Homo sapiens: one gene and its partner. The protein of the gene in region 1 purifies or fractionates together with the protein of each later gene. This does not show direct contact. Each region holds a gene or a part of one and is shown in the gene's direction. Other genes may lie near its edges.

Evidence for each region. The genes of interacting proteins can lie anywhere in the genome.
Region 2: the proteins of ERO1A (region 1) and LRSAM1 fractionate together in Homo sapiens (co-fractionation; one large-scale study listed by BioGRID). This does not show direct contact.

The regions. Positions count from the first base shown.
Region 1 is NC_000014.9:52,685,559-52,689,058, reverse strand, and holds part of ERO1A (ERO1-like protein alpha isoform 2 precursor), read left to right. Parts: intron 1-3,500. UniProt on the Homo sapiens protein: Oxidoreductase involved in disulfide bond formation in the endoplasmic reticulum. Efficiently reoxidizes P4HB/PDI, the enzyme catalyzing protein disulfide formation, in order to allow P4HB to sustain additional rounds of disulfide formation.
Region 2 is NC_000009.12:127,489,510-127,493,009, forward strand, and holds part of LRSAM1 (E3 ubiquitin-protein ligase LRSAM1), read left to right. Parts: coding exon 1-9; intron 10-1,705; coding exon 1,706-1,786; intron 1,787-3,292; coding exon 3,293-3,388; intron 3,389-3,500.

The DNA.
Region 1 (3,500 bases):
TCTTGCACCTGGGAGGCAGAGGTTGCAGTGACCTGAGATTGCACCATTGCACTCCAGCCTGGGCAATAAGAATAAAACTCCGTCTCAAAAAAAAAGTATATGAGGAATATATTCTTATAGTGCTTTGTGTGAAAAAATAAAATGGTAATGTATAATAAGACTAGAATATATTGGTATACAAGAAAACTTTAGAAAGTGTTGTTTTGTCTTTCATTGCAAATTAAAGGATACCTCTGACATGAGAGTAGTGAACAAGCGGTACGTGGTAATTTTCCTTTATCCTGCCTTTTGCATTTGGTCAAATCAAACAGAGTCAACAGAGAAGGTAATTGAGGCTCCCTCCACAGCTAACTGTTGGTTATCTAGTTCTTTGTTCCATTGGGGCTACAGATGTCAAATTTTTGGGAAATTTTAGCTGCAAATTCGGCTGTATTTTTCTTATTCATTATGAAAATGCCATGTGCTGCTTTGGGAAGTAATACATGCTTCCCTTTCATTGGAAGCATTTAAGTAGAAGTAGGGTAATAATAATGATTAACATGTACTGACAATTTACTTTGTACTATTTATCTTGGTATCAACTCTTTGAGATGAGAACTATTACTATTTTCTATTAAGATGAGAAACCAAGGCCTAGAGAGGTTAAATAGCTGGGATAAAGTGAAAAACTAATGACTGGCAGAGATGGGATTCAAACCTAAGGAGGTCTGATGTTAGAACATACACGCTAACTATTGTTACACACTACCTGTTCCTTGAGGGATGTGAATGGAGGGATTTGCTGTTTTGCTTGGGAGATTGTAATAGAAAGCCTTCCAAGGCTTTCTAACTCTTAAAAGACTAGGACTTTTTTTTTTTCTTTTCTATTTTTTTGAGGCAAGGTCTTGCTCTGTCATTTAGGCTGGAGTACATTGGCATGATTATGGCTCACTGCAGCCTCAACCTCCCTGGCTCAAGCGATTCTCCCACCTTAGCCTCCTAAGTGGCTGGGACTACAGATGTGCACCCAATGCCTGGCTAGTTATTTTATTTTTTTGTAGAGATAGGGCCTCACTGTGTTGCCCAGGTTGGTGTCAAATTCCTGTTCTCAAGCAACCCTCCTGCCTTCACCTCTCAAAGTGCTGGAATTACACGTGTGAGCCACCATGCTGGAACAGAAGGCTGGAATTTTGAAGTGGTCCATGTTACTTGTCAGGCCTACCTTGGTCCTCCTATTTACTGTTCCTCAACTGGGGCCTTCTTATCTCTGCTTATTAGATTGGCCCTCTACCAAAAGCTATCATTACTTGAAGCCTAGAGCAGTTAGCCTCAAATGTTAGGATACTAACCTTTAAAACACATTAGCATTTAAAAAAATTTAGATTCCTGTGGTAGGTCAGAGTTCTGTTTTACTTTGGGATATAGCGTAGTAATTTTCCCCCTTACCCGCATTGTTCCATGTAGTAGTTATTTAGGCAGCCTTAGCACATCCTGAAACAACATCCAGTCCTCCCTGTTCCAGGTTGCCACCTGTCTTTGGTCTTAGTTGAGGTAATAGGATTTTGCTTTGTTTCCCGGATCCTGTTCTGTGTCTATTAACTGTATTTTACCTTAGCCCTTTCCTGAGGCTCTATTCTTTTTTGTTTTTTGAGACAGGGTCTCACTCCCATTGCCCAGGCTGGAGTGCAGTGGTGCAATCTCAGCTCACCACAGCTTCGACTTCCCAGGCTCAAGCCATCCTCCCACCTCAGCCTCCTAAGCAGCGGGGACTGCAGGCGTATGCCACCATGCCTGGCTAATTTTTTTTTGTAGTTTTAGTTGAGACAGGGTTTTACCATGTTGCTCAGGCTGATCTGGGACTCCCAGGCTCAAGAGACCTACCAACCTTGGCCTCCCAAAGTGCTGATTACAGGCATGAGCCTGAGATTCTATTCTAGTAACATGCTTTGTTCTCTGGTTTCTAGAACTGGTCCTGCCACCATCTTTGCCAGACTCTCTCCCAGGGATCAGGTTGGCAGGCTTATCTGAGTTGTCAGATGGCATGGATTTCCGAGAATCTTCTTGTCTTTCCTTTACTGAGCTGTCTTCATCCATTGAAACTCCTGCCACCCTTATACTCCCTTAGCAGCCCTGCTACCTGTGGTTGTAGTTAAGAATATCTCCTACTCCATATTTCAGGAAGGGGCAGGACATTTTTTTTTTTTTGAGATGGAGTCTCGCTCTGTCACCCAGGCTGGAGTGCAGTGGTGTGATCTTGGCTCACTGCAATCTCTGCCTCCCCGGTTCAAGCGATTCTCCGGCCTCAGCCTCCTGAGCAGCTGGGACTACAGACATGTGCCACCATGCCCAGCTAATTTTGAATTTTTAGTGGAGACAGGGTTTCACCATGTTGGCTAGGATGGTCTCAATCTCTTGACCTTGTGATCCGCCTGCCTCGGCCACCCAAAGTGCTGGGATTACAGGCGTGAGCCACTGTGCCCGGCCAAGAACATTTTAAAATCTACCAATCTACCATTTATCCTGCCTTCTTTCCCTTTGAGGTCTCTTGGCTATATGCCACCTCTGCTCTGGAGGATTTTTGCATTTCTTTCTGGTTTGGGGCTTCTTAGAGCTTCCTTTGTAATTAGGATAGAGATAGGAAGAATGATAGACACAAAAGGTGTTTACCTTTGCTGCTTGCTTTACTTGCTATGTGTGTTTCTGCCTCCTGTGCTTGTGTACTCTGGGGCACTGAGCACACCATAGGTGACATGGTGCTAGATATGTTTAATGAGACAGTATGGTGCTGGTCTCCAGTGATGAGTGACAATGGACAACATTCATTCATTCACCCACCTCTTCCACAAATAGTAATAATTTATTTGTGACAGAATCTCACTTTGTTGCCGAGGCTGGAGTGCAGTGCAGTGGTGTGATCTTGGTTCCCTGCAACCTCTGCGTTTTGGGTTCAAGCGATTCTCCTGCCTCAGGCGCCCAAGTAGCTGGGACAACAGGCATGGGCCACCATGCCCGGCTAATTTTTATGTTTCTGGTAGGGATGGGGCTTCACCATGTTGGTCAGGCTGGTCTTCAACTCCTGACCTCAAGTGATCCTCCCGCCTTGGCCTCCCAGGGTGCTGGGATTACAGGCCACAAATAATTATTGAGCATCTACTGTGTGCTTTCTGGAAGTATATGATTTTTCACTCAAGGATTTTATACTTTAGTGGGCAGGGGTAAAATAGATAAATTCACTGCTGTGAGGTACAGTAATACTTAGATAATAGTGTGTGGAGTGTCTTGGGAGCAGCTGGGAGAGGCATTTAACCCAGCGGGTGGTAAGGAGTACTGGAAGGACAGCTTCCTGAAAAAGGTGATACTGAGCTGAGGCTTGAAGATATATTTTAACCTTAAAAATGAATTCCTCAGGGGGAAGAATGGATGCCTTGAAACTTGCTCTCAAGTTTTTCATGTGTTTCTTTTTGTAACTTAATGTCTCTACTTTGCATATGTCCCTTTGGCCTTTGCAGTCTCTATGTCTG
Region 2 (3,500 bases), on another chromosome or scaffold:
AGGAGCCAGGTGAGCGCTGGGGCTGGGGTCCCTGGACCTGCTCTCTCAGAGACTTGCAGAGTGGCCCTCCAGGGCGGCAGGTCGCAGCAGTTGAGGTTTGAACCCCAGCTCCTTGGCTTGCTAGCCCAACAAGAGGTCGAGGCCTTGCCCTCAGAACCTCCCTTTGCTCCCAGCCTTGTGTCGGGGCTGCTGGGAGGGTGTCTAGAGACCTCCTATTCCGGGGTCTGGCGAGGGTCTTGCCAGCGAGGCGGGTCTCCACCACGCCTGGGCCAGGGAGGCTGGTGCTGATGTGTGGCTTTGACTGCTCCAGCTGCCTCTGCTGTCCCTGCTCCAGGCAGGACTTCCCCACTGGGAAAAGCAGCCGGCGCAGGCCCCAGCGCTCCTACAGCTCAGACAGACAGAGGCGTCTCAGGGGCATATAGTATTTCCCCCAGAAGAGGGCAGGGGGAGCTGTGAGCCACGGTGGTCCTGACGCCTGCTGAAAAGTGACCTCGGCCCAGGAGGAGGCGGTCCTCCTCTTAGACCCTCCCTCATGTGACAAGATACCCCCCACCCCCCGCAGGCCGGCTGCTGACCTTCAAGCCTTGGGCAAGCCCACCTACACGGCTTGGTGGTCACCGCCTGTGGAGTGGGGCTGGGGCTGGGGCTGAAGTGAGCGTCAGGCTATGGGAGTACTCCTGCATCATGTTCAGCACACTGAATTTTGCATTTTTGCATGGTTTTTTTCTTTCTCTATTTTTCTTTCTTTCTTTCTTTCTTTCTTTCTTTTTTTGGACCAATTTACCTTTTTAATTTCCCTCTTTAATTTCAATTCCACATTGCCGGACATGAAGCTCATTCCTCTGACCAGGGGTTGGTGGTGTCATAGGGACTTAGGGATGAGGGTCACAGGGTCATGGGCACAGGATAGAGAAGTACTGGCTATGGGGTCTGACCCCCACCCCTGCCCAGGGCTAAAATCCCCTAGACACACCCTGGAGAGCCTGTGAGGGCCCCCCACATTCTCACTGCAGATGGTTTTGACCAGGTCAGCTATTGCCCTTAAACCCTGAGCTGAGGCATCCCAGAGAAAGGGATCTCTCCCTTACCTGCTCTGTGTCCTTGAGCAAGTGAGAACCTCTCTGAGCCTCAGTTTTCTTGTCTATAAAATGGAGGCAATAATACCTCCTAGCAGCCAGAGAATTGATGAAATATGATACATCAAGTGTGCAGCACAGGCCTAGCACATAGTAGGTGCTCAAGACATACCAGCTACTACTACCACTGTTACTCAGTCACTTCCACTACCCTCTGCTCTCCCCTGCAACAGCGATGCGAGGGACAAGAGAACTTGACCAGCAGGAGACTGGGTGATAGCTCTGTCTGTGCTTTACTCTGGCCTGAATCCCCAAGGAAAGCCCCCTCTCCATTGCACAAGCCTTTATCCTGATCCCACTCTAGGAGAGATCCTGTGCTGGCCTCTTGGTAAACAATTTTGGCCACAACAAGCACGTCCATGCCCCAGGAACGCGAGGCCATGAAGGAACGAATTCTTGTTCAAGCCCCTTGACGAGGTTCCCAGGCCCGCAGGTTCCCCTCATTCCAGAGCCTCCCCAGCCTCCCCAGAAAGGCTTCTTAGACCCACTTGGTCACCAGAGAGTAGCAGCACAAAACTGAACTGTGGTTAATGTGAGTAAAAAAAAACCCTGTCTCGTCTTCTGTTTAGATTAAGTTAATAGAAACTGAGTTATTGCAGCTGACACAGCTGGAGTTAAAGAGGAAGTCCCTGGACACAGAGTCACTCCAGGTATGTAGGGCTCCCTGCCCCTGCCCTCCTTCACGTGGTGAGACCCCCACCTGGTGCTCCCTCCCAGCCTCTGGCAGCTGCTCACCAGCCCCTGGGAGTCAAGGGCTTCCCCAGCAGACAGAGGGCAGAGCTCCTCTGTGGCTGTGACACCAGAGGACACCCCCCAGCCCCAGAAGGCCCAGCGCAGGCCAAGGTTAGAGGTGGTCAGCCTGTTGCGAGGCAGGAGGGTCAGAGGAAGGAGGGTTTCATTGCCAAGGCTCCCCTGCTCATCTCCATCACTGTGTCTCCTGTGCTGGGTGCGGGCCCGCCGCTGAGCTCCTGTCTCTCTCTGTAGGCCGTGCTTTAGGCCCCCAGGCACACATCCTCCAGGGCTGGAGCTTTTGGGTGTCCCGGGTTGTCTGGAGGAGAGGGCCCAGCCGCATCTGTGTAACTCCCTGCAGGCAGCATCTCTGGGGCTCCAGCCCGGGAGTCCTGCGCACACAGATGAGAGGGCAGCAGGGACTGGCAGCTGGCGTCCTGGACTGGATGCCTGGGAGCCGGGTGTGGCCCAGCACAGCCCTGCTGTGCAACTTTGGCAGGTGGGGGAGGAGAGGCAGCCCTTTCCCCTCTCTGAACCTCAGCCTCTCCAGCTGCAGACGGAGGGCTGGATGGGATGGTGTGTGAGGACATGTGCCTGTGCCAGGAGTTTGAGCAGAGCCTTCGGTCTGTCACTGTCCCTGTGTCTGTTCTCAGTGGAGAAGTCTCAAGCCATCCCATGGACTCCTCAGTGCAGTGAAGGGTCTGGGATCTGGATCCCTGGTCTCAGGTGCACCGCAGGTGTGCTGTGTGCCCTTAGACAGGCCTCTGCCCCTCCAGGCCTTCTTCCCCTACTCCATAAGATGGCAGCGGTCCTCCAGGCCCAGCCTGTGCCATCAGGCCATCGGAGAAGGCTGAGCTAGCAAGGGAAAGCCCTTTGTGAGCCTTGAAATGATCTCCAGAGATGAGGGGACTGGGACTGCTCTCAGAGAAGCTGCGGTCATCATGCCTGGCGGGTGCCCTAGTCCCTGCCCACAAGTGTGGCAGGGCTCTGGCTGTTGGGGCCCCCATGGGGTTTCCAAGAGCAGGCGCAGGAGTGAAGCAGGGACCCCAGGCTCTGGTTTGCACGCACCTCCATTTGTGTGGGGCCCCACACTGCTCCCCGCCATTTGCTTCTGCCCATGTGCTCTGTTGTCTGGGAGACCAAAGGCAGGCACCTGTGGCTTGTCATTTCTTTTGTTTGATGTTTCTTACCATCCCATTGTCATCAGTCACCAGGATCCCATGCCTGACTTAACCCCACAAGGAAGAGAGATGCGGGCTTAGGGTAAGGGGGCAGAAGGGCCTCTTAGCTTTGTCCCCCAACGCAGCCTGGAGGCATTGGGCAGAGAACCGAGTGAGCGGGAGGCCAGGCCCTTCTCCATCCTGCCACTGCGGGACTCCTGCGCTGCCGCCAGCTCACGGTGGTGCGGGGTGTGGTCTTGTTCGCAGGAGATGATCTCGGAGCAGCGCTGGGCCCTCAGCTCCCTGCTCCAGCAGCTGCTCAAAGAGAAGCAGCAGCGAGAGGAAGAGCTCCGGGAAATCCTGGTATGTGTTTGGCTTCTGTGCTCAGCATCACACAGGCATTTGCTTTTCTTTAACAGACTTGCCATTTTTAGAAACACCTGTTATTCAAGTAAGAGTTATTCATCAAAGAAAA